3 separate regions of the Homo sapiens genome follow, and regions 1 and 2 are each linked to region 3. The links come from fine-mapping of genetic effects on gene expression. A gene starts in region 3. Each other region holds a variant in brackets. All regions are shown on one strand. Distances are between the middles of the regions.

Evidence for each region. PIP is the estimated chance that this variant, and not a neighbour inherited with it, causes the effect. A credible set is the group of variants that fine-mapping cannot tell apart.
Region 1: its variant is the best candidate, but not a certain one, in a credible set for the expression of NRROS in whole blood (INTERVAL, PIP 0.76).
Region 2: its variant is the best candidate, but not a certain one, in a credible set for the expression of NRROS in whole blood (INTERVAL, PIP 0.82).

Annotation. Positions count from the first base shown.
Region 1 is chr3:196,614,152-196,622,330 of GRCh38, forward strand. No RefSeq gene overlaps it. Among named protein-coding and RNA genes, the nearest start is that of LINC01063, 14 kb to the right of the region's middle. RefSeq lists an enhancer at 6,063-6,132. The variant A/G (reference allele first, on the strand shown) is at 3,140.
Region 2 is chr3:196,657,670-196,665,848 of GRCh38, forward strand. It overlaps NRROS (negative regulator of reactive oxygen species), which reads left to right. Exons shown (of 3, transcript NM_198565.3): 3 at 2,083-4,335. The coding sequence ends at 4,053. Among named protein-coding and RNA genes, the nearest start is that of NRROS, 22 kb to the left of the region's middle. RefSeq lists enhancers at 2,005-2,580, 7,758-8,179. The variant A/G (reference allele first, on the strand shown) is at 5,040.
Region 3 is chr3:196,635,561-196,643,739 of GRCh38, forward strand. NRROS (negative regulator of reactive oxygen species) reads left to right here and starts at 4,134. Exons shown (of 3, transcript NM_198565.3): 1 at 4,134-4,315. RefSeq lists enhancers at 4,771-4,890, 6,059-6,408, 6,429-6,488, 7,933-7,982, 8,113-8,179 and 1 more and silencers at 3,771-4,200, 4,221-4,320.

The DNA.
Region 1 (8,179 bases), 21 kb before region 3:
AAAGAAAGAAAGAAAAAAGAAAAACCAAACAAAATACATATCATATATCATCAACATAGTTCATTACGCCATTATTATATCATCAGTATAGTTCACATTACACATCACATGACAGTGGTACCACTCAGACGCCATGAACCTTCTACTTGAGACAGTTAAATTCAAGAATAATTTTTTTGGCCGGGTGCGGTGGCTCATGTCTGTAATCCCAGCACTTTGGGAGGCTGAGGTGGGCGGAGCACCTAAGGTCAGGAGTTCGAGACCAGCCTGGCCAACATGGTCAAACCCCATCTCTACTAAAAATACAAAAATTAGCTGGGTGTGGTAGCCGGCGCCTATAATCCCAGCTACTTGGGAGGCTGAGGCAGGAGAATTGCTTGAGCCCAGAAGGCAGAGGTGGCAATGAGCCGAGATCATGCCACTACACTCCAACCTGGGCAACAGAGCAAGACTCCATCTCAAAAAAATAAGATTAAAAAAAAAAGGATAAATTTTACAAGACTCCATCTCAAAAAAAAAAAATTTTTTTTTTTTTTTTTTTTGAGATGGAGTCTGGCTCTGTCACCCAGGCTGGAGTGCTGTGGTGCAATCTTGGCTCACTGCAACCTCTACCTCCCAGGCTTAAATGTTTCTCCTGCCTCAGCTTCCCAAGTAGCTGGGACTACAGGCGCATGCTACCACATCCAGCTAATTTTCGTATTTTTAGTAGGGACGGGGATTCACCATATTGGGCAGGCTGGTCTCAAACTCCTGACCTTATGATCCGCCTGCCTTGGCCTCCCAAAGTGCTGGGATTACAGGTGTGAGCCATAGTGCCCAAGAATAATTTTTTTCAAGAAGTATTCAGTCTATAGAGTCCCAGTAACAGAGGTAATAAACATACACATGGTAGTATTTCAAATTCATGAATTTGTTCAGCTTGGGAGCAATGGGAATTTAGCTTTTTCTTTTATCTTTTTTTTTTTTGAGATGGAGTCTTGCTCTGTTGCCCAGGCTGGAGTGCAATGGCACAATCTCGGCTCACTGCAACCTCTGCCTCCTGGGTTCAAGCAGTTCTCCTGCCTCAGCCTCCCGAGTAGCTGGGATTACAGGAGCCCGCCATCACACCTGGCTAATTTTCGTATTTTTAGTAGAGATGGGGTTTCACCATGTTGGTCAGGCTGGTCTCAGACTCCTGACCTCTAGTGATCTGCCCACCTTGGCCTCCCAGAGTGCTGGGATTACAGGCGTGAGCCACCGTGCCCAGCCTAGAGCTTTTTCATGTTTATTTATTTATTTATTTATTTATTTATTTATTTATTTTCAGAATAACCTGAAATTTATTCTAGTTATATTGGAAAAAAGAAAATCCTCAATCACTATCCACATCATACAACATACCAATTCTGACTCAAATGCCGACCTACATTTTTTTTTTTAGACTGATGGGGTATATGCGCATGTTTGTTACATGGTTTTTTGTTTGTTTGTTTGTTTTTGTTTTTTTTCTTTTTTTTGAGACAGAGTCTTGCTCTGTTGCCCAGGGTGGAGTGCAGTAGCACGATCTCAGCTCACTGGAACCTCTGCCTCCTGGGTTCAAGTGATTCTCCTGCCTCAGCCTCCTAAGTAGCTGGGACTACAGGCACCCGCCACCACGCCTGGCTAATTTTTGTATTTTTTTAGTAAAGTCAGGGTTTCATCATGTTGGTCAGGCTGGTCTTGAACTACTGACCTCAAGTGATCCTCCCACCTTGGCCTCCCAGAGTGCTGGGATTCCAGGTGTGGGCCACCGCACCTGGCCACATGGGTTATATCGCATTATGGTGAGGACTGGGCTTCTGGTGTACCCATCACCCAATAGTGCACATTGTACCTAATAGGTAATTTTTTGCCCCTCATCCCTCCCACCCTCCCCCCTTCTGGAGTCCATTCCATCTTCATGTCCATGTGTGCCCATTGTTTAGTTCCCACTTAGAAGTAAGAACATGCAGTATTGGAGTTTCTGTTTCTGAGTTAGTTCACCTAGGATAATGGCCTCCAGCTCCACCTATGTTGCTGCAAAGGACATAATTTCATTTTTTTTTTTTTTTTGAGACAGAGTCTTACGCTGCCACCTAGACTGAAGTGAAGTGATGCGATCTCAACTCACTGCAACCTCCGTCTCCCTGGTTCAAGCGATTCTCCTGCCTCAGCCTCCTGAGTAGCTGGGATTACAGGTGCGCGCCACCATGCCCGGCTAATTTTTGTATTTTCAGGTGAGACGGGGTTTCGCCATGTTGGCCAGGCTGGTCTCACACTGCTGGCCTCAAGTGGTCCACCTGCCTCAGGCTCCTAAAGTGCTGGGATTACAGACGTGAGCCACCGCGCCCGGCCACATTTCGTTCATTTTTATGGCTGCAGTTACAGTGTTCTAGCTGGTTCTTCTGTGTCCTTTATTTCCTATAAATGATCAATGAGATGTTAACATTTGATTTAATTCAAGTTAGACACTTTTAGCAAGGATATATCCTAAGTGCTGCTGGGTGCTTCGTGCGCACCATGGTGGAAGACATATTCTGGTTGTTCTCCCATCAGTGATGCTAATATTAACCCCTGCATTAGTGCTAACAGTGTGACCCTCTGATTGTGACCCCTTGATTGTGACCCCTTTATTGTGACTCCTTTATTGTGTTTCTTTTCCTCTCTTGTGACCAAAGAGAAGTCTGCATGGTTGCTGTTGCATCACACAAATGTCAGGTGATGTTTATTTTATTTTATTTATTTTTTTTGAGACGGAGTTTTGCTCTTGTTGCCCGGGCTGGAGTGCAGTGGCGCAATCTCGGCTCACTGCAACCTCCGCCTCCTTGGTTCAAGCAATTCTCCTGCCTAAGCCTCCCAAGTAGCTGGGATGACAGGCATGCACCACCACGCCTGGCTAATTTTTTTTTTTTTTTTTTTTTTTGGATTTTTAGTAGAGATGGGGTTTCTCCATGTTGGTCAGGCTGGTCTCGAACTCCCAACCTCAAGTGATCTGCCTGCCTCGGCCTCCCAAAGTGCTGGAATTACAGGCGTGAGTCACCGCACTCAGCCAAGTGATGTTTATTTAAAAGTCACAATTGGTCAGAAAAAGAAAAGGCAGATATGTTAGGATTCTCAAGGACATATATACAGAGAAAGAGAT[A/G]TTTTTAAGGAATTGGTTCACATAGATTATGGAGGTGGGCTAGTCCAAAATCTGCAGCGTGAGCTAGCAGGCTGGAGAACTTCCTCTTCCTCCAGGGAGCAGTCTTTTTGTTTCAGGCCTTCAGCAGACTGGATGAGGCCCACTCGCATTATGGAGGGTAATCTGCTTTGCTTAAAGTCCACTGATTTAAATGTTAATCTTATCCAAAAATATCCTCACAAAGACATCCGGAATAATGTTTAACCACATACTGCTCTGAAAAGTCAATGGGTTCATTTTTTTTCTATTAAAAAACCCCACCACATATCTCGGCATTGTGGCCCAGCTAAGCTGACATGTAAAATTAAGATATCACAGCAGCGCTGAGAGATGGAGCTTCCGTCTCTGCTACTGTGTTCTGTTCTTGTGTAAATAATGTAACACTTAGGGCCTCAGTTTTCCTCTCTGTAAAACAAAGGGTTTGGACTAAAAGATCTCTAAGTTCCCTTCCAGCTTTAAAGTTCTTTTAAAAATTGTGGTAGGACAGGCATAGTGGCTCGCGCCTGTAATCCCAGCAATTTGGGAGGCCGAGGCGGGCAGATTGCTCGAGGTCAGGAGTTCGAGACCAGCCTGGCCAATATCGTAAAACCCCCATCTCTACTAAAAACAAAAATTAGCCGGGTGTGGTGGTGGGCACCTGTAATCCCAGCTACTCAGGAGGCCGAAGCAGGAGAATTGCTTGAACCCGGGAGGCGGAGGTTGCAGTGAGCCGAGATCGCGCCATTGCACTGCAGCCTGGGCGATAAGAGTGAAACTCTGTCTCAAAAAAAAAAAAAAATCGTGGTAAAATACATGTAACAAAAAATTACCATCTTAACCATTTGTAACAGTACAGTTCAACAGTGTTAAGTGTATCCCCACTGTTGTTCAATCTCCAGGAGTGTTTCATCTTTCAGAATGAACTCTCCATACACTAAACATTTATTTCTCCCTCTCCACAGCCCCTGGATGCTTTCAATGCTTGTGGGTATATTCCCATAAGCAGAATTGCTGGGTTCTGTGGTAATTCTTATTATAAGGTTTTAGGGAGCTATCACACTGTTTTCTATACTGGCAGCACCATTTTATATTCCCACCAGTAGTGCACAGGACTTCCAGGTTCTCTACATCTTTTCTAACACTTGTTGCTTTCAGGTTTGTGTGTATGTTTTTTTGTTTTTGTTTTTGTTTTGTTTTTGTTTGTTTTGGTTTTTTTTTTTTTTGAGACGGAGTCTCCCTTTATCACCAGGCTGGAGTGCAGTGGTGTGATCTTGGCTCACTGCAACCTCCGCCTCCCGGGTTCAAGTGATCCTCCTGCCTCAGCCTCCTGAGTAGCTGGGATTACAGGTGCCAGCCACCACGCCCGGCTAATTTTTGTATTTTTAGCAGAGACGGGGTTTCACCATGTTGGCCAGGATGGTCTCCATCTCTTGACCTCGTGATCCACCCGCCTTGGCCTCCCAAAGTGCTGGGGTTACAGGCATGAGCCACTGCGCCAAGCCTTGTGTGTGTGTTTTATAGCAGCCATCCTCATAGGTATAAGGTGATATCTCATTAAGATTTTGATTTGCATTTTCCTAATGATTAGTGCTGTTGAGCATCTTTTCGTAGGTTTGTTAGTCATTTGTTTATCTTTTTTGAAGAATTGTCTACTTAAGCCCTTTGCCCATTTTTAAATGAGGTTGTTTTTGTTGTTGTTGAGTTATAAAAGTTCTTTATATATTCTGGATATTAACTCCTTATCAGATGTGTGATTCACAAATGTTTTCTCCCGTCTCATGGTTTGTCTTATCCCTCTGTTGATTGCGTCCTTTAATGCACATAAACTTCTTTAAGCCTGTGAAATTTGGGGTTGCAACTCTTCCTCCCATCTGTGGCCCATGGCTGCAGGCTGAGGACCTTAACCTCTCTGTCCTAAATGAGTGGTATGCCTGCCCTCCTATCTCTTTGATGATACATATTTCAGAATAGAACTCTAAGTTCTTATTGCTGGAATCAACTTTGGAATTCTTGTCCAACCTCATTTTACTCATGGACAAACAAGGCCCTTTGTGAGCAACAGAGCTGGATCTAAAGTGTGAGCTTCTCTCTCCTTCCGGCGCTCTCTGCACTGCGATGCAACTCGACAAGTCAGCTGGTCTTTGTAATGAACTCCTCAGGAAACACAAGCAATTACAGGAAAAGACAACCAGGCTATTAAGAGGGAATTTTATTCTATTGAAACTCTGTTATGGGGAAACGTGTGTGTTTGTTATAGGTAATCTATTTACATTTTCAAAAACCTTTTTTTTTTTGGTAATTATTTTATTTTATTTTATTTTTTTATTGATCATTCTTGGGTGTTTCTCGCAGAGGGGGATTTGGCAGGGTCATAGGACAATAGTGGAGGGAAGGTCAGCAAATAAACAAGTGAACAAAGGTCTCTGGTTTTCCTAGGCAGAGGACCCTGGGGCCTTCCGCAGTGTTTGTGTCCCTGGGTACTTGAGATTAGGGAGTGGTGATGACTCTTAACGAGCATGCTGCCTTCAAGCATCTGTTTAACAAAGCACATCTTGCACCGCCCTTAATCCATTTAACCCTGAGTGGACACAGCACATGTTTCAGAGAGCACAGGGTTGGGGGTAAGGTCACCGATCAACAGGATCCCAAGGCAGAAGAATTTTTCTTGGTACAGAACAAAATGAAAAGTCTTTCAAAAACCTTTTTACTTTCTAAAAGCAACTACACATATTCTAGGACTGCAAGTGCTGTTTTCTGGTAAACGGGGAGTTGCTTAGAAACCAGGAATGAGGGATGGAGACCAACGGTCTTCTGTGGATGAAGTATAAACAGTAACTCTTCTAAGGAATCAGTACTAACCTTGGGAAGAAGATGAGCATGATTTTTCTCTGTACAACCTCTACCCCTCTTCTGATGAAAGCACCTGCTTTTCTTTAGGGCCTACTCCATCAACAGGAGCCCATGTCGTTTGGGTGGAGCTTCAGGAATCGGCATATGAGTCAGTCCAGAAAAATAGGCACATCCCACCCGCCAACCACAGTGACTGATTGCGGAAGAGGCACTTGACCCCAGGTCACACAAGGGGGTTCCGTCCTGGGACTTTTGCTGCACTGTTTTGAAAGAGGCCTCTTTCCCCCTGGTATTGCTAGACTAGCAGGCCATGGGCCCGAAACTGCCAGAACGCACCCTTGATGCCACCCGGGTAGAGTCAGGGGAGAGCAGGGCTGAGAGTTGGAGACACAGATTCCTGAAAGCATTGTTTGAGCGCGTGGATCCAGTCTTGCTTTAAATCAGACTTTTTAGTAACATGAACCGATCAATTCCTCTGCTACACCAGTTTGAGTTGGGTTTCTATCACTAGTGATTAAAAGAGTCCTCATTAGTCCAGATTGTACTTTAAGTTGCTTGTATACATTATCTGGAGGAGAGTATAAAAATAATAGGCTATAAATAGTGAGACTAATATTAAGTTATTTTAGGTAATAAAAAGTCAAACTGATGGGAATAGTTCTGTGGGGAAATTGTGTGAAGCTATGTTAACAGTAAGAAAAGTGACTAGGTTTTGGTGTAAGTAAATGCCTGGTCACACATTCGGGAAATAATAATTTAAGTTCTATTTCTAGTATGACACATTGCAAGGCAAAGAATAAGTCATTAAGGGCTCTTTAAGAACATTCAGTGCAAAGATGCTACTGCACATAACATATTAGAAAAGTATAATAGAAGTAAAACAGGTGACAACGTTTAAAAAAACAAACAAACAAAAAAAAACAGGTGGCCAGATGCAGTGGCTCACGCCTGTAATCCCAGCACTTTAGGAGGTCGAGGTGGGCAGATCACTCGAGGTCAGGAGATCAAGACCAGCCTGAGCCAACATGGTGAAACCCCATCTCTACTTAAAAAATAGAAAAAAAAAAATTAGCGGGGGGTGGTGGTGCACGCCTGTAATCCCAGCTACTCGGGAGGCTGAGGCAGGAGAATCACTTGAATCCGGGAGGCGGAGGTTGCAGTGAGCCAAGATCACACCACTGAACTCCAGCCTGGGCGACACAGCAAGGATCTGTCTCAACACAAAACAAAACAAACAAACAAAACCAACAGGTAACATTCATCCCACTGTTGCATAGAATCACAACGGGCCGGATGTATTCCGTCTGAGCTTCCAGATCCACTGTCTACCCTCTCCCACCCTGCTCTCTGCTCAGCAGACCTGTGTCCTTTGTCCTCTAGCTGGGGTCCCTAAACAGGGATCCCCGTCAGGGAGGGGAGAGTGGTCGCGTGTTTGCTCCCCTGGTTTCCTCCTGCAGGGCTTCCTCGGGGAGCTGCTTCCCTAGATCAGGGGTCACAGGGCTTCTCCAGTAGCCTCTCCAGGCGCCTGTGGACTCTCACCTTTTGGGCTCTGATCATTGTTGCCTCCCCCAGACCTAGGGAAGTAACAGCCCTTTGGGGCAAGTCCTGGGCTCCCGCTTTGCCGTGACCACACTGGGTACTAGTCCCTTTATTAAACTCTCCTCAAATTGCCTAACTTGCAGATGGCAACTGTTTCCTATGATATGACATAATATATCATAACGCACGTTCTTTTTTTTTTTTGAGACAGAGTTTTGCTCTGTTGCCCAGGCTGGAGTGCAGTGGCTCAATCTCAGCCGCTCACTGCAACCTCCGCCTCCCGGGTTCAAGCGATTCTCCTGCCTCAGCCTCCCTAGTAGCTGGGATTACAGGCACTCGCCACCATGCCAGGCTAATTTTTGTGTTTTTAGTAGAGATGGGGTTTTGCCATATTGGCCAGGTTGGTCTCAAACTCTTGACCTCAGGTGATTTACCCGCCTTGGCCTCCCAAAGTGCTGGGATTACAGGCGTGAGCCACCGTGCCTGGCCACGCAACGCACATTCTATGTCCACATTTGGAAAATTACCTTTGATTGTGAGTGTTCAGCCTCAAGAAAACAGCAAGGCAGGCAAAGTCTAAAGGAGGGGAAGTGAAGAGATCAAGAGCTGGGAGTGTGAGCTAGAACAGTCATA
Region 2 (8,179 bases), 22 kb after region 3:
GCACTCCAGCCTGGACGACAAGAGTGAGACTCTGTCTCAAAAAAAAAAAAAAAAGATAAAAATTCTCTTCCAGAGTACTTTGTAATTATAATGCAATCCCAATCAAAATACCAAAGAGGGAAGGGGGATGTGGAAAGAACTTGGCAAATCCTTTCTAACGTTCGTCTGGAAATTAGAGAAACCCAAATGCTCAACAATAGGAGATGATTAATTAGATCATCCTAATAATTATAGCTCACATTTATTAAGCACAGTAAATGTGTTTCACCTCAACAGTCACACTTGATCCTGAAAAAAAACGCTATGCGAAAATGACGAGTATAATTTCGGTTTTACAGGCAGGGTAATGGAGGTCTCTTTCGGTTCCGTAACCATCCAAAGGTCACCCATTTGATCAAAAGCAGAGCCACGAAGCATTGGCCCTGGAACTCTTGCTCTCAGCCACTGTGCTATTCATGAGATGAATGCATATGCTTCCTAAAAAGATTATGATCACATTTATTTGTACTGCCAAGGCAATAAGTCCGTCATACTTTATTGACAGGGGGAGAAAAATAGGTTACTGAACAGTTTGCACAGTATGGTCTTATTTTTGTTTTTTAGACAAAGGTAGGTAATATCTTACGAAAGATCCAGAAAGACATGGAACAGAAGGTGACTGGTGTTTCTCTGAGAGAGAGGCGGAGGTGACAGAAGAGTTGAGGTTTCCATATGTCAATACAGTATCAATGTTTAATTATTGGAAGGTTTTATTTTAATTATCAGATAAAGAACCCGAGGGGCCAAGAAATTCCACTGCTAGTGGTGGTAGAGCCGAGATTCAGATTGAGTCTGTCCTCCAAACCTGTGCTTCTTCTAACCTCTCTCTCGGGATTTTCCTCTTCTGTTGCCGTGCTGCACTTGCCCTCTGGGATTGAACCCACAATTGTAGGCAACCACTGCCCTTGTATTACTGATAAACTTGTGCAAACGAATGCCATTGCTCCTCTATCTTATCACTTAAAACTTCTTTCTGGCCGGGCACGGTGGCTCACGCCTGTAATCCCAGCACTTTTGGGAGGCCGAGGCAGGCAGATCACCTGAAGTCAGGAGTTCGAGACCAGCCTGGTCAACATGGTGAAACCCCGTCTCTACTAAAAATACAAAAAAAGTTAGCTGGGCGTGGTGGCATGTGCCTGTAATCCCAGCTACTCGGGAGGCTGAAACAGGAGAATTGCTCGAACCCAGGAGGCAGAGATTGCAGTGAGCTGAGATCACACCATTGCACTCCAGCCTGGGTGACAGGGTAAGACTTCATCTCAAAAAAACAAAAAACAAAAAAACCATTTTTGTCCTAGACACCTAAATAACATCCTATGGCTGATGGTTGTTTTTGCCAATTTTGCAAAGCGTGGGGTGAATTAAAGTATCCTGCACGTGTGCTTTCTGCAGTGCGACCAGGGTGGCCTCGTCCCTCCCGCCTCCTTATTCTGCATGATCAGAGTAGAGCCCTGTTTAGGAAAAGCACTGAACTGGGCATTCAGAGCCCTGGGCTCCAGTCCCGGCACAGCCACTGGCTCTTCACTTCTCCCCTCCAGACCCACTTTACTTCCCTGTACAATTCAGGATGGTGAAAGCTCTCAAGTCCTTTTTTTTTTTTTTTTTTTTTTGAGATGGAGTCTTGCTCTGTCGCCCAGGCTGGAGTGCAGTGGTGCAGTGGTGCAGTCTCGGCTCACTGCAATCTCTGCCTCCTGGGTTCAAGCAATTCTCTGCCTCAGCCTCCGGAGTAGCTGGGATTACAGGTGTCCACCACCACACCCGGCTAGTTTTTTGTATTTCCTGTAGAGACAGGACCTCACCATGTTGGCCAGGCTGGTTTTGAACTCCTGACCTCAAGTGATCCACCTGCCTCGGCCTCCCAAAGTGCTGGGATTACAGGCATGAACCACCGTGCCCGGCCTTGTCTATCCTATTTTTAAAATGAACATCTCTAGAGCCATCCCCGGCGGTTGCAGGGACAGTCTGATAAGTGAACTAAGTTTCTATGCATAAATGCTTGCCTCTGGGCCTCCTCGCTGCTGACCGGTGTGGTTTTGGCCGCAGGTGGGTGGAGCCGCTGACTGCCGAGGGCAGAGCCTCGCTTCGGTGCCCAGCAGCCTCCCGCCCCACGCCCGGATGCTCACCCTGGATGCCAACCCTCTCAAGACCCTGTGGAATCACTCCCTCCAGCCTTACCCTCTCCTGGAGAGCCTCAGCCTGCACAGCTGCCACCTGGAGCGCATCAGCCGCGGCGCCTTCCAGGAGCAAGGTCACCTGCGCAGCCTGGTCCTGGGGGACAACTGCCTCTCAGAGAACTACGAAGAGACGGCAGCCGCCCTCCACGCCCTGCCGGGCCTGCGGAGGCTGGACTTGTCAGGAAACGCCCTGACGGAGGACATGGCAGCCCTCATGCTCCAGAACCTCTCCTCGCTGCGGTCCGTGTCCCTGGCGGGGAACACCATCATGCGGCTGGACGACTCCGTCTTCGAGGGCCTGGAGCGTCTCCGGGAGCTGGATCTGCAGAGGAACTACATCTTCGAGATCGAGGGCGGCGCTTTCGACGGCCTGGCTGAGCTGAGGCACCTCAACCTGGCCTTCAACAACCTCCCCTGCATCGTGGACTTCGGGCTCACGCGGCTGCGGGTCCTCAACGTCAGCTACAACGTCCTGGAGTGGTTCCTCGCGACCGGGGGAGAGGCTGCCTTCGAGCTGGAGACGCTGGACCTGTCTCACAACCAGCTGCTGTTCTTCCCGCTGCTGCCCCAGTACAGCAAGTTGCGGACCCTCCTGCTGCGCGACAACAACATGGGCTTCTACCGGGACCTGTACAACACCTCGTCGCCGAGGGAGATGGTGGCCCAGTTCCTCCTCGTGGACGGCAACGTGACCAACATCACCACCGTCAGCCTCTGGGAAGAATTCTCCTCCAGCGACCTCGCAGATCTCCGCTTCCTGGACATGAGCCAGAACCAGTTCCAGTACCTGCCAGACGGCTTCCTGAGGAAAATGCCTTCCCTCTCCCACCTGAACCTCCACCAGAATTGCCTGATGACGCTTCACATTCGGGAGCACGAGCCCCCCGGAGCGCTCACCGAGCTGGACCTGAGCCACAACCAGCTGTCGGAGCTGCACCTGGCTCCGGGGCTGGCCAGCTGCCTGGGCAGCCTGCGCTTGTTCAACCTGAGCTCCAACCAGCTCCTGGGCGTCCCCCCTGGCCTCTTCGCCAATGCTAGGAACATCACTACACTTGACATGAGCCACAATCAGATCTCACTTTGTCCCCTGCCAGCTGCCTCGGACCGGGTGGGCCCCCCTAGCTGTGTGGATTTCAGGAATATGGCATCTTTAAGGAGCCTGTCTCTGGAGGGCTGTGGCCTGGGGGCATTGCCAGACTGCCCATTCCAAGGGACCTCCCTGACCTACTTAGACCTCTCAAGCAACTGGGGGGTTCTGAATGGGAGCCTCGCCCCACTCCAGGATGTTGCCCCCATGTTACAGGTCCTGTCTCTCAGGAACATGGGCCTCCACTCCAGCTTTATGGCGTTGGACTTCTCTGGGTTTGGGAATCTCAGGGACTTAGATCTGTCGGGGAATTGCTTGACCACCTTCCCAAGGTTTGGGGGCAGCCTGGCCCTGGAGACCCTGGATCTCCGTAGAAACTCGCTCACAGCCCTTCCCCAGAAGGCTGTGTCTGAGCAGCTCTCGAGAGGTCTGCGGACCATCTACCTCAGTCAGAATCCATATGACTGCTGTGGGGTGGATGGCTGGGGGGCCCTGCAGCATGGGCAGACGGTGGCCGACTGGGCCATGGTCACCTGCAACCTCTCCTCCAAGATCATCCGCGTGACGGAGCTGCCCGGAGGTGTGCCTCGGGACTGCAAGTGGGAGCGGCTGGACCTGGGCCTGCTCTACCTCGTGCTCATCCTCCCCAGCTGCCTCACCCTGCTGGTGGCCTGCACTGTCATCGTCCTCACTTTTAAGAAGCCTCTGCTTCAGGTCATCAAGAGCCGCTGCCACTGGTCCTCCGTTTACTGACCTGGCTGTGTGCCAAGACTCGAAATTCGGTCCGCACACAACAGGACACTTTCTCTGCCAGCTTTCAAGATGTGATGCAGAGGCCAAGTCTGACGAATTGAAGTTTCAATTAAAATTTAATATGTTTCCATTCCTCATCGCCCACCCCACCCCCGCCCCCACCACCGCCCAAGTTCTTTTTCCATCATTATAATTCATCCTCATTATCTTGGTAAAATATTTATTAAGTGACTTTTTCAGAAATAAAAGGCAACGTGTCTCATAAATATTTTTTAAATTAAATGCAGCTTGTGTTTTTTTTTATTGTTCCTTGGTTTCCCTTGGATTATTTTGTAGTGTCCTCCCCTTGGTGACATCCATGGAGCCGAGGGTAGCAATTCAATGCAACCTACTGGAAAAAGAACTCCAAGAGCAGGTGCTAGAGATGGTGAGTCAGTGCCCTGGGGACTCAACAGGGACAAGGATTTCATAGCAGGACGACGACACAAGGATTTCATAGCAGGACGACGACAACAAAGCATTTCAAAGCACAGCTGGAGGGTCTGACATAAGATCATAAGATGAGGCCTCTCACCTGCTGCGTGACTGGCCACCGCCGTCAGAACGGTCCTGTGATCCTAGCACTTTGGGAGGCTGAGGCGGGTCACCTGAGGTCAGGAGTTCGAGACCAGCTTGGCGAACATGGTGAAACCCCGTCTCTACTAAAAATACAGAAATTAGCCGGGTGTGGTGGCGGGCGCCTGTAATCCCAGCTACTTGGGAGGCTGAGACAGGAGAATTGCTTGAACCCAGGAGGCGGAGGTTGCAGTGAACCGAGATCACACCACTGCACCCCAGCCTGGGCGATGGAGCAAGACCCCGTCTCAAAAAATAAACAAATAAATAAAATAATGGACCTCTAGCTGGGCCCTCTCCAGGTGCCCTGGCTTCATACCCGGAGTCTCTGGCAGACAGACATGACTCTTCCATGGAGAAACCAAGAGAAT[A/G]ATAACTGGCCCCGAGTTTATCCAGTCAGTAAGCCGACTGCCAGAGACAGTCCTCGTTCTGAAGGGAAGTAAAGAGGAATGCAGAAAGGAATGAATTCTGCTCACTTGTGAACCCTCCTAACTCTTCACAAAAAATTGCTTACAACTTCATAGCAGATGTTCAGTATCTGTATTCACTAGATTCTTAGCTTCCCTTCTCCCTCTGTTCAATGACTAACGAACAATGTCTGTGCTCCTCTCTGAGAGAAAAGATAACAAGGACACAGCCCCCGTCCTCTGGTAGTTTAGAATTTACACTGTCCTCAAAGTTTTTAATCCCTGCTTACTAAATCATAAAGGAATTAAACGCAATGGGGGAGGGATGGGGAGGGAGAGAGGCTAGAAATCCCACAAACTGATAGCTATTACCATGCAGACTAACTGTCAGCAGAAATATTTAGGCAAATCAAAGAGATAAAATCAGTGGTCTTACTCTGACACAGCAGAAACTTCCCTTGGATGCTCTACAGAGGTTTGAACAAGGCCATCTCAGGCCCCACATTCAGTAGCGTTAGCGGCAGGTCCTGTTAGGCTTTGCCATCTCAGGCCCCACATTCAGTAGCGTTAGCGGCAGGTCCTGTTGGGCTTTGCCCTTGCTATGACCCCACCGTTCCCTCCTGCACTGCGCCCAGCCTAGTGTCGTGGATGTCTCTCAGGTTGCCTTGAAGCCTTCCGGGCAAGTCCCATCAGCCAACGCAACATCAGACCAGACTCTCCTGATTTCCTCTCCCCATCAACAAAACCCTTCTCTGGGGTCCTGCTGTTTCCTAATGTGAACACTAGCTAATTAGACAAATGCATCTATCTGTGGCTGGTGCACTGACGGCTTCTCTTGAGTTAATGCGTCACCTCTGGTATCCATCAGTGTTCTTAGTCTCATGCAACTGAAGACGGTTCTGTCTGATTTAAGTAGCTTACGCATTTAGTAAGAGAATATTAGTAAGCTCTGGACTCTCGGGAAGGCTGAGGAACAGGCTTGGAAAATGGGCAGGAACAGAAGATGCTGTGTAGCAATTGGGACCAGCTGGTCTCGAACTCCTGACCTCAGCCCAAACCATGCCATGAGCAGTAACTGTGGGAGCATGGCTGCAGCCACCCCTGCCACCTTCTGCTGAAATAAATGCTCCCCAAATTCTGCTGCATCGCCAGCTCCTGACCGTGGTCATGTGCCCCTGCCCTGAGTACAAGAAGGACTGGCACGGCAATGCTGTACCCCTTGGCGAGGTGTCTATGGCAGAAGATAGGCTCCGTGTCCTCCAAATTCTTATGAGGGGGCAGAGTTCTTGAAACCTAAGAAAGGAAGTGAGACGTTGAGCAAACAAAATGAATGAAAAGTAAGTCCCGTATCCTTTTATGGCTGCATGTACATTTTATTTATTTATTTATTTATTTATTTATTTATTTATTTATTAGCCTGAGTCTCGCTTTGTTGCCCAGGCTGGAGTGCAGTGGCGTGATCTCTGCTCACTGCAACCTCTGCCTCCCAGGTTCAAGCGATTCTCCTGCCTCAGCCTCCTGAATAGCTGGGACTACAGGCGCCCGCCACCACACCCAGCTAATTTTTGTATTTTTAGTAGAGACACGGTTTCACCATGTTGGCCAGGCTGGTCTTGAACTCCTGGCCTCAGGGTGATCCGCCCACTGTGGCCTCCCAAAGTGTTGGGATTACAGGCGTGAGCCACCGCGCCCAGGCAGCGTGTACATTTTAGCAGGCAACTTCTGGAAGCAAATTCTTAGCACAAAGAAATGACTCAAATGATGGAAACTTCAGACAGAAACTCAGGGCAGTCGGGGAGATAGTTTGGGGTTCAGCAGGACTTTTGAAGCCCCTCAAGTCACACCATGTAGCTGACCACCCACTCTTTCTGTTCTTGGGGTCCAGCCCGGGAGGATGACAAATTGAGCCCCAGCCCTGCCTGTGACTGTGACTTTAGAAGGCTGTGGGCTTTCCTTCCTAGTGTTTTCCATCACAAGGATCCAAAGGTGATTTCCTGCCGGGTGCGGTGGCTCATGCCTATAATCCCAGCACTTTGGGAAGCTGAGGTGGGTGGATCACCTGAGGTCAGGAGTTCGAGACCCGCCTGGCCAATATGGTGAAACCCCATCTCTACTAAAAATACAAAAATTAGCTGGGCGTGGTGGCGTGTGCCTGTAGTCCCAGCTACTCGGGAGGCTGAGGCAGGAGAATCGCTTGAACCTGGGAGGCGGAGGTTGCAGTGAGCAGAGATGGCGCCACTGTAGTCCAGCCTGGTCGACAAGACAAAATTCCGTCTCAAAAAAAAAAGGATGATTTTCTAGGTTTCTCTCAGTATGCGGAAAGTTACATAGGGAAGGTGCTTTCTGCCTTCAGTGCTCAGCTATGGTTCCCCCAGCAAATTCTGTCCCCTTTCCCTGCTTCTCCCACTCCGACCTGGACCCATAGGAGAACCTACTGGCGAGGGAAGGACCCACAAAGCCTGTTACCAGAGTTCTTCGGTGGGGCCAGAATGGTGTCTGCCTAAGAGCTCCCATTCAGCCAGGTGGGGCACCACGTGGTTCTTCCTCAGTGGGTGGGCAGTAGGGGGCCATTTCCGGTTGCCACATGCCAGAATATTCACACAGGAGGATATTCAGAATCACAGATAAATCATGTCAGAGACTGGTCTGTGAACATGAGTAACAGTAACTTAGATTTTGGAAATCCAGTCATAAAACAAAAGCTGAAGGTTTTTCTGGAGGCATTTAAGTTAGGGATCAATTGATTTTTTTCCGTTCTTTCTTTTTTTGAGATGGAGTCTTGCTCTGTCACCCAGGCTGGAGTGCAATGGCGCAATCTCGGCTCACTGCAAACTCCGCCTCCCGGGTTCAAGCGATTCTCCTGCCTCAGCCTCCTGAGTAGCTGGGATGACAGGTGCCTGCCACCACGCCCAGCTAATTTTTGTATTTTTAGTAGAGATGGGGTTTCACCATGTTGGCCAGGCCGGCCTCGAACTCCTGACCTTGTGATCCGCCCGCCTCGGCCTCCCACAGTGCTGGGATGACAGGCTGAGCCACGGCGCCTGCTGATTTCTTTTTTTAAACGACCCCAGTTGCAAGCAATTGGACAAACTCTAATCCTTGGT
Region 3 (8,179 bases):
TGCACCACCACGCCCAGCTAATTTTTTGTATTTTTAGTAGAGATGGGGTTTCACTATGTTGGCCAGGATGGTCTTGAATGCCTGACCTCAGGTGATCCACCCACCTTGGCCTCCCAAAGTGCTGGGATGACAGGCGTGAGCCACTGCGCCCGGCCTCCTCCTCCTTTCTTTGAGCAAATAGTCACCAAGCCCCTTTATGTGCATAAGATAGTATATTTTTTGGAATAACACATGACCCTGCCTCCAAAAGTTTGTAGTGGGCCAGGCATGGTGGCTCACGCCTGTAATCCCAGCACTTTGGGAGGCTGAAGCGGGCGGATCACCTGAGGTCAGGAGTTCAAGACCAGCCTGGCCAACATGGTGAAACCCCGTCTCTACTAAAAATACAAAAAATTAGCTGGAAGTGGTGGCGGGCGCCTGTAATCTCAGCTACTTGGGAGGCTGAGGCAGGAGAATTGCTTGAACCCAGGAGGCGGAGGTTGCAGTGAGCCGAGATGGCACCATTGCACTCCAGCCTGGGCAACGGGAGTGAAACTCTGTCTCAAAAGAAAAAAAAAGTCTGTAGTGTAGTTGTGGAAAAAAGGCAGAAGTCCAAAAAATTAAATCACAACACAAGAGATGTCATGAGGTCGGTGGATTATGGGAACGCTGGCACCATGTGTTCACAGGACAAGGTGGCAATTGCAGTGGGGAAGGCTTCATGGAGGAGGGGAGTCCAAGCCATGCCTTTGGGATGGGGAGGGTTGGGGTAGGCAGAAGAGGCCATTCCAAACAAGGGAACCCTCTGCCAGAGAGAGTAGAGAGTGGGGAGCGTTTGTTCTGTGTTTGGGAAAATCGTGATCAGCCCGGGCTGGGTGAACCCACCTGCAGGCCATGTGTGCAGTGATCATGAAGCATGGGCGGTAGTCGTGAAGAGAGGCTGGAGGCAGCTCAGGCCGAATGGACTTTCTCCTCCAGCCGGGAGCCGCCTGGGTTCTTGCTTTCACTTCGGATCAGAGACGCTGCTGCGCTGCTTGACACTAGACTTGCTTTATTCCTGTTGAGTGGAATACAGCAAACACCCCAATAGGTGGAGCAGGCTCAAAGCAAGAGGCACATGGCCCCCCAGAAATTCTCATGATCCTGTGGAGGGGTGAGCTTGGTCAGGGCAACCAGGCCTGGATGCACCAGGGTTGCATCTGAGAGGAAGCACCCTGGTCTCCTCTGCCTCGAAAAGCATAGTGAGGGGGGAGCCCAACCAAGTTGGAGGATGCTGAGCTGTGCAGTCGGGCTTCCAGCCGTGCTGGCACGTTCTCCTTTCAGCTGAAATCTGCATTGGTTTCAGCTGGACGTCCAGGCTTCCACCCACTGAGGCAGCGTGCTGCTAGCCTAGGGGAGGGCTGCTGGTGTTGCCAACCAACTGGCTTGTCTCTACACATCCATCAAGAGCACTGGGGCCGGGTGCAGTGGCTCACACCTGTAATTCCAGCACTTTGGGAGGCCAAGGTAGGCAGATTGCTTGAGCCCAGGAGTTTGAGATCAGCCTGGACAACATGGTGAGACCCCTGTCTCTACCAAAAATACAAAAGACATGGTGGTGTGTGCCTGTGGTCCCAGCTACTGAGGAGGCTGAGGTAGGAGGATCACCTGATCCCAAAGGTCGAGGCTGCAGTGAGCCTTGATTGCGTCACTGAACTCCAGCCTGGGCAACAGAGTGAGACCCTGTCTCAAAAAAAAAAAAAAAAAAAAAAAAAAAGAAAGAAAAAGAATTAAAAAGAAAAAAAAAAGACCATTGGTTTACTAGATTTTTTTTTTAGGGGTAGCAGCTGCCTTTCTCAAAAGAAATTCTATAGAGAATCTCCCAATGTATAAAACATATCAAAGTAGAATTCTTGGGATGTGGAGGGAATGGGGTACCTGGATCCCACCTGCCAGTCTTTAGGCATTCATGAGGAACCCTTGAACCTGCTGAACCCTGTAAAAGGGCTTTAAGCAGAGAGTGAGATGACCCAATACACATTTTAGAAAGATGCCCGTGGCAGCTAGGTGGAGTTGACATTGGACAGGGATGAGATTAGGGGCAGGGAGCGAGTTTCAGGAGGCTATGAAAGTGGTCCAGACATGAGCTGATGAGGTCTAGACCCAGGGCAACAGCCTAAGGATGAAAAGCAGGTTGGATTCCAGAAACATTTCTGAGTTAGAATCAGCAGGAATTGGGGGTCAATTAGATATGAAGGATGAAGTCTGTGAGGGCTGGACTGCCTGGGCTGAAACATACCGTAAAGTGTGACAGCCATACAGGAGAGAAACTGCTGGGACAAAGGATAAGAGTTGAGTTTGGGGCCAGGCACAGTGGCTCATGCCTGTAATCCCAGGACTCTGAGACTGAGGTGGGCGGATCACCTGAGGTCAGGAGTTTGAGACCACCCTGGCCAACATGGTGAAATCCCATCTCTACTAAAAACACAAAAATTAGCTGGGCGTGGTGGTGGGCGCCTGTAATTCCAGCTACTTGGGAGGTTGAGGCAGGAGAATCACTTGAACCTGGGAGGCAGAGGTTGCAGTGAGCTGAGATTGCGCCACTGCTCCAGCCTGGGTGACAGAGCAAGACTGTCTCAAAAAAAAAGAGAGAGAGTTGAGTTTGGGATACATCATGTTATGGTGACTCTGGGACATGTAGCAGTTGATTGACCAGTAGACAGTTAAAAATGCAAGTCTGGATCTTCTCTCGTGGAAGAGAATGTTGGAGCTAGAAATTAAAATTGGGGAGTTACCAACTGATTGGTAGACACAAAAGACATGAAGTAGAGAATGTGCATACAAGAGAGAAAGAGGCCTGAATCAAGCACCTGGGTTTGCAACAATTTGATCTTTATTTAGCTTTTTCATTGGTGTGATTGTTATTACCATTATGAGATAATATTTTATTTTTAAAATTATTTTTATTTTTTTAAAGACGGAGTCACACTCTATCACACAGGCTGAAGTGCAATGGCGTGATCTTGGCTCACTGCAGCCTCAACCTCCCTGTGCTCAGGTGATCCTCCCACCTCAGCCTCCCAAATAGCTGGGACTACAGGTGCGTGCCACCAGGTCTGGCTAAGTTTTAAATTTTTTGTACATATGGAGTCTCAGTATGTTGCCCAGGCTGGTCTTGCACTCAGGCGGTCCACCTGCCTTGGTCTGCCAAAATGCTAGGATTACAAGCCTGAGCCTCTGTGCCCGGCCATGAGTGAATATTGTAGAAAGCAGAGACAATGTGCCAGATGTTTGGAGTGAAAAGGACTTGGCTCCTGTTCTCTTAGGATGGACAATGCTACACACAATCCCAAATCACAGGCTATAAGAGAGGTGACCCAATCCTGCAGGACAGTTCAACGTTTCAGATTTGAAGGGGAGTGAGAGAGATCAGAACTGGAGGCCCCTTGTCTGAGCCCCCGACTATGGTGGTCCACGTCACTCCACACGCAGCAGGCACTGTAAATATTTCACCTTCTCTAGACGACAGTAGTTCCTCGAGAACAGGAGCGCTGGGGTAATGCATATGAAGCTCTTAGCACAGTGTCTGGCGCTGCTTCAATGATGGCTATATGATCAATTATTCTTACTCCTTTGAATTCTTGGCAAGAGCTGGCAGGGAACTTTGTACACATCAGGTACAAAAAAACCCATCCGCGCAGTCTAAGATCAAGAAGCTCTTGGCACTCTCTGACAGTCCTCGACAAAGCAATTCCCCTTCTTTCTAACACAGGGTCCGTAAAGGAGATGATCCACAAGGACCGGCTGAGTGGATAAGAAGACAGACTGGCTGAGCGGCTGACCCTGCCAGACGACAGGCTGTGCCTCTTTACCACGGTGCTGCCGTTCCCAAAGTCGGCCTCAGCTTGGTCCTTGGCTGGAAGCTCGTAGCAAAGTTTCTGGGTCAGCAGACCTCATAGGCAAGGGGCCCCTAGCTGGCCGCCCCCAGCCCTGCCAAGGCACCAACGCAAGAAAGCCGGGGGAGCCTCGGTCGCATTGCTGGAAGATCGTCTAAACATCCCCGCTGCTCGGCCGCTAGGCCGGCAGGTGTTCGGGCCCCGCTCCCCCGGCCCGCCCCACCCCCGCGCCCGCGCCGCGCTTCCCTCTAAGAGGCCGGGTCTGAGTGAGCCTGTGCTGAGTCGCCGAGCAGCCCGCTCTCCATGTGACTTCAGTTTCCGTCCGTTCCTTCCGCTGGTGCTAAAATAATCTGATGCCCCACAGCAAGGAGGTAGCCCAGCCCCGCGTTCGGCTGCTCTCGAGGAGGCCGGAGCCCCCGGAGACGATGCGCCCCGCGCAGCCGCCTGCGCCTGCGGGAGCCGTGAGTATTTCCCGCGTGGGGGCGTCCCCGGGGCACAGCCGGGGCCCTTCTCCAGGTGGGCGAGCTCGAGCGAGGTTGGGTGGTAGGAGGTCAGCGTCCGCGGCCCGCAGCTCAGGGCTCACGAGGAAGCTGTGGCTTGCTGCGTCCAAGCGCCGCCGCTTTTGTGCTGGGCGTGGGGGCTGCAGCTCTGGGTGGAGGTGGAAATACCTCCCTCCAGGAGCACTTAGAGCTGAGAAAGGTGGTGCGACGTAGTGGAAACCACGAGGGCTTCAGATTCAGACGTGGGTTTGAGTCCTGGCTCTGCAGGGAGCATGTGAGCAGACAGTTAAGGTTTCTGAGCCTCAGTTTTCTCATCTGCAAAATGGGAACAGAGATGCTCCCTCCCTGGGCTGGGCGACTGGATATGATGAGACCGCTCTGTGCACACTCAGCATGCTGAGCACTGGGCTCTCCTTTCCTGTCCCACAACGTGGATTGAGAACCACTATCTCATAGATGAAGACACTAAGACTGGTTAACAGCAACACCTATCACAGATGCCGTCCACGTGCCAGGCCTGTCCAAGGCCCTGGGGATACAGCTGTGAAAATGTGCAAAGCCCCTTCTCCCACAGAACGTTTGTCCTTGGGAGATTCACTGGGGCTCTGTGACTTGGATCTTAGCCTAGACTTAGATCCATGGCTTATCAGAGGGAGACTAACAGGAGGGCGACGAAGACTCGGACGCTCTTCCGTAGCCCTCGTGGCCCCTGCATGTGGGCCGGCTTCTGAAGGGGTCAGCGTACTTCCCCACGTACCCAGGAGCTAGACGGAAAGAAGTAAGGAGCCACTGGTGTGGCTTTGTGCTGCCTCTGAGAGAAGGTGGACACGTGCCAGTTGGTGGCTGCGACTGGAGGAGGCCGGATCGGGGGTCCTAGGAATGGAGCCTCTCCGGACAGGGCTGGTCGGGGCTGCTGTGCTTCCCTAGGGGCTGAGGGGACCCCACCGGAGGCTTCTTCATGATGGGCACAGCCCGTTAGGAGTCTGGGTGCTAGAAACATTCAGCGTCTGTGGCCCTCCATGCTTTCCTGTGTGCTCCTCACCTGCCGGCTGTGACACACAGACTGTTCTGTGGATGCTGAGGGTTTGCTGGGCTTTACATTTACAATACGTATTTATTCTCCTCACACACCTCTTAGGTTTGTGTGTGTGTGCCCGAGAGTCCCTAAAGGAGATTATAGAATCATGGGCCCAGGAAAAAACCTTAACTCCTGCCTTTAGGTTAAAAAAACAAAACAAAACAAAACAAAACAAAACAAACTCAGCTTCACAAAGAAGGCACTTTTTAAAAATATATATATTTATTTATTTATTTTTAGAGACAGGCTCTTGCTCTGTTGCCCAGACTGGAGTTCTGTGGCACGATCACAGATCACTGCAGCCTCAAACTCTTGGGCTCAAATAATGCTCCTGCTTCAGTCACCTGAGGAGCTAGGACAACAGGTGCACACCACCATGCCAGCTAATTTTTAAAATTTTTTTGTAGACACAGGATCTTGCTGTGTTGCCCAGGCTGGTCTCAAACTCCTGGGCTCAAGCAATCCTCCTGCCTTGGCCTCCCAAAGTGCTGGGAGTGTGGGCGTGAGTCACCGCCCCCAGCTTTCATGTAATGAGTGCCCTCATGGGAACTTCATGAAAACACATTCTCTTATAGTTTTTAAATTCATCATCCAAGAGTTCCTGCTCTTTGATGATGAGACATACCTGGTAGACTCCAAAACAGAGAGCAGACGCCTAGTATCTTTGTTCTGGGGTGTGCATTAAGAGTACATTGACCTGTCTGTCTCCAGTCTTGACTCTTTTGGAAGAGAGATGCTAGTACTGATGACAACCTGCATTCTGGCTGCGGTGTGCGTCCACACTGCACAGTGTGCACCAGACTCTCGTATGGACAATGACTGTCCCTCACATCAGGCGCAGATCCATTTTAGAGCCTCAGAAGTCAGGAGAGGGTGGACTTTCAACCACGACTGAAAACACTGTCTTTCTTAGGACATGCTGTGTGTATGACACACTTACAGATGTCTGTGCTCACTGATGCTTGTTGATGTGTCATCGCACATCAGTGACAAACATTTGTCATGTTTTTGCCTTTGGTGGAACTTCTTTATTATACTCACTTTCCTCCCAAACCATTTTTCTCAACTTCATCATGAAGCAAATGTCATGTGGTCATTCTGTGATGGGGCTCAGGGCTAGGTTAGGTGATGATTTCTGAAAGCTCAGAGACGTGAAGGAAAAAGGACATCAGTGCTTGGATCTTAGCTCTTATAAGCCTCACGTGCAACAATAAACCCGAGTTCAAGAATCAGATTCTTAGATAGATTGGTTTGGTAGCAAATGACAAAAAACCAACGTAAATATGCTTCGGCAAAAAAGAAAAAAAAAAAGGATTTATTGTTTCAAATAACTGAAAAGTGTATGGGCAATAGTTTCAGGCATGGCTGAGTCCAGATGCTCAAATGGCATTGCCAGGAATCCATCTGTCTCCTTTCCTCAGCTTTGCCTTCCTCTCTGTGGGCCTCTTTACCAGGCAAGTCCCGGAGCTGGTGGCAAAGATGGCTGCCTGCAGCTCCAACTATATTCCTACTGGTTTGGCATCTGAAACAGAAAGAGCAAGTCTCCTTTCCATGAGTTCTAGCAACTGCCCGTGGATTGATTCTCATGGGCTTGGCTTTTATGATGAGCCTGTTAGGAAAATGGAGTGCTCTCACGGGCCCAGCCTTACTCATAGGCCCCGCCCTGGAACCAGGAGCTGGGATCAGACCCGAACACACAGACTTTTGAAGAAAGGAAGGGGGTTGGTTGCACAGCCGCGTAAGGGTACTTAACACTACTGAATTGTACACCTAAAAATGGTTAAGATGGTCACTTTCGGCCGGGCGCGGTGGCTCATCCCTGTAATCCCAGCACTTTGGGAGGCCGAGGCGGGTGGATCAGGAGGTCAGGAGTTTGAGACCAGCCTGGCCAAAATGGTGAAACCCCGTCACTACTAAAAATACAAAAATTAGCTGGGTGTGGTGGTGAGTCCCTGTAATCCCAGCTACTCAGGAGGCTGAGGCAGGAGAGTCGCTTGAACCTTGGAGGCGGAGGTTGCAGTGAGCCGAGATGATTGTGCCATTGCACTCCAGCCTGAGCCACAAGAGCAAAATTCTGTCTCAAAAAAAAAAAAAAAAAGATAATCGCTTTCATGTTTTGTGTATTTTACTACAATTAAACATTTTCTAAAGAAAAAAAGGAAAGAAAGGGGGTGATTTTCTCAAAGGGGAATTGAGGGGTTGTTACCAGAAGGAGAAACGAATGTGAGTGAGTAGGCGAAACCAACCAATTTCCAGAGCGAACGGAGTCAGGTGCTGACCCCAAGCCAATGTGTCTTTTCTCACTTTAATGCCTGAGGGATTTCAGAGTGAACAGAGTGAAGAAAGGAGGAAGTGGAACCTCGTCATGGTCCTCACCCACGAGGTGGGCGCGAGGAGCAGGCTGGTACTGGATAGGCTCAATGTGGCCACAAAGCCTGGTGAGGTCACAGGGACTCCCCTCCTCCAGCCCCAACCCAAAAGGTTGCCTAAGGCAGGTGCTGCGCCATGTGCACCAAGCAACTTTCTGCTGCCACCTCCAAGAAAGAGAAGGACCGGGAGGGGATTTCTCCCAGGAGAGAGAGCACATAACGCTCCGTCTTTTCACCTGTCTGTTCTCAAGCAGGACCTAAGTGTCTAAGGCAACCCCACACCCACAGTGCCTGGCAGGGGCCCACCCATGGGTACACATCGTGTTCTCCTAAGCTCATGTCACTCCATTTCAGATGTCAACTGGACATGGACTCCTG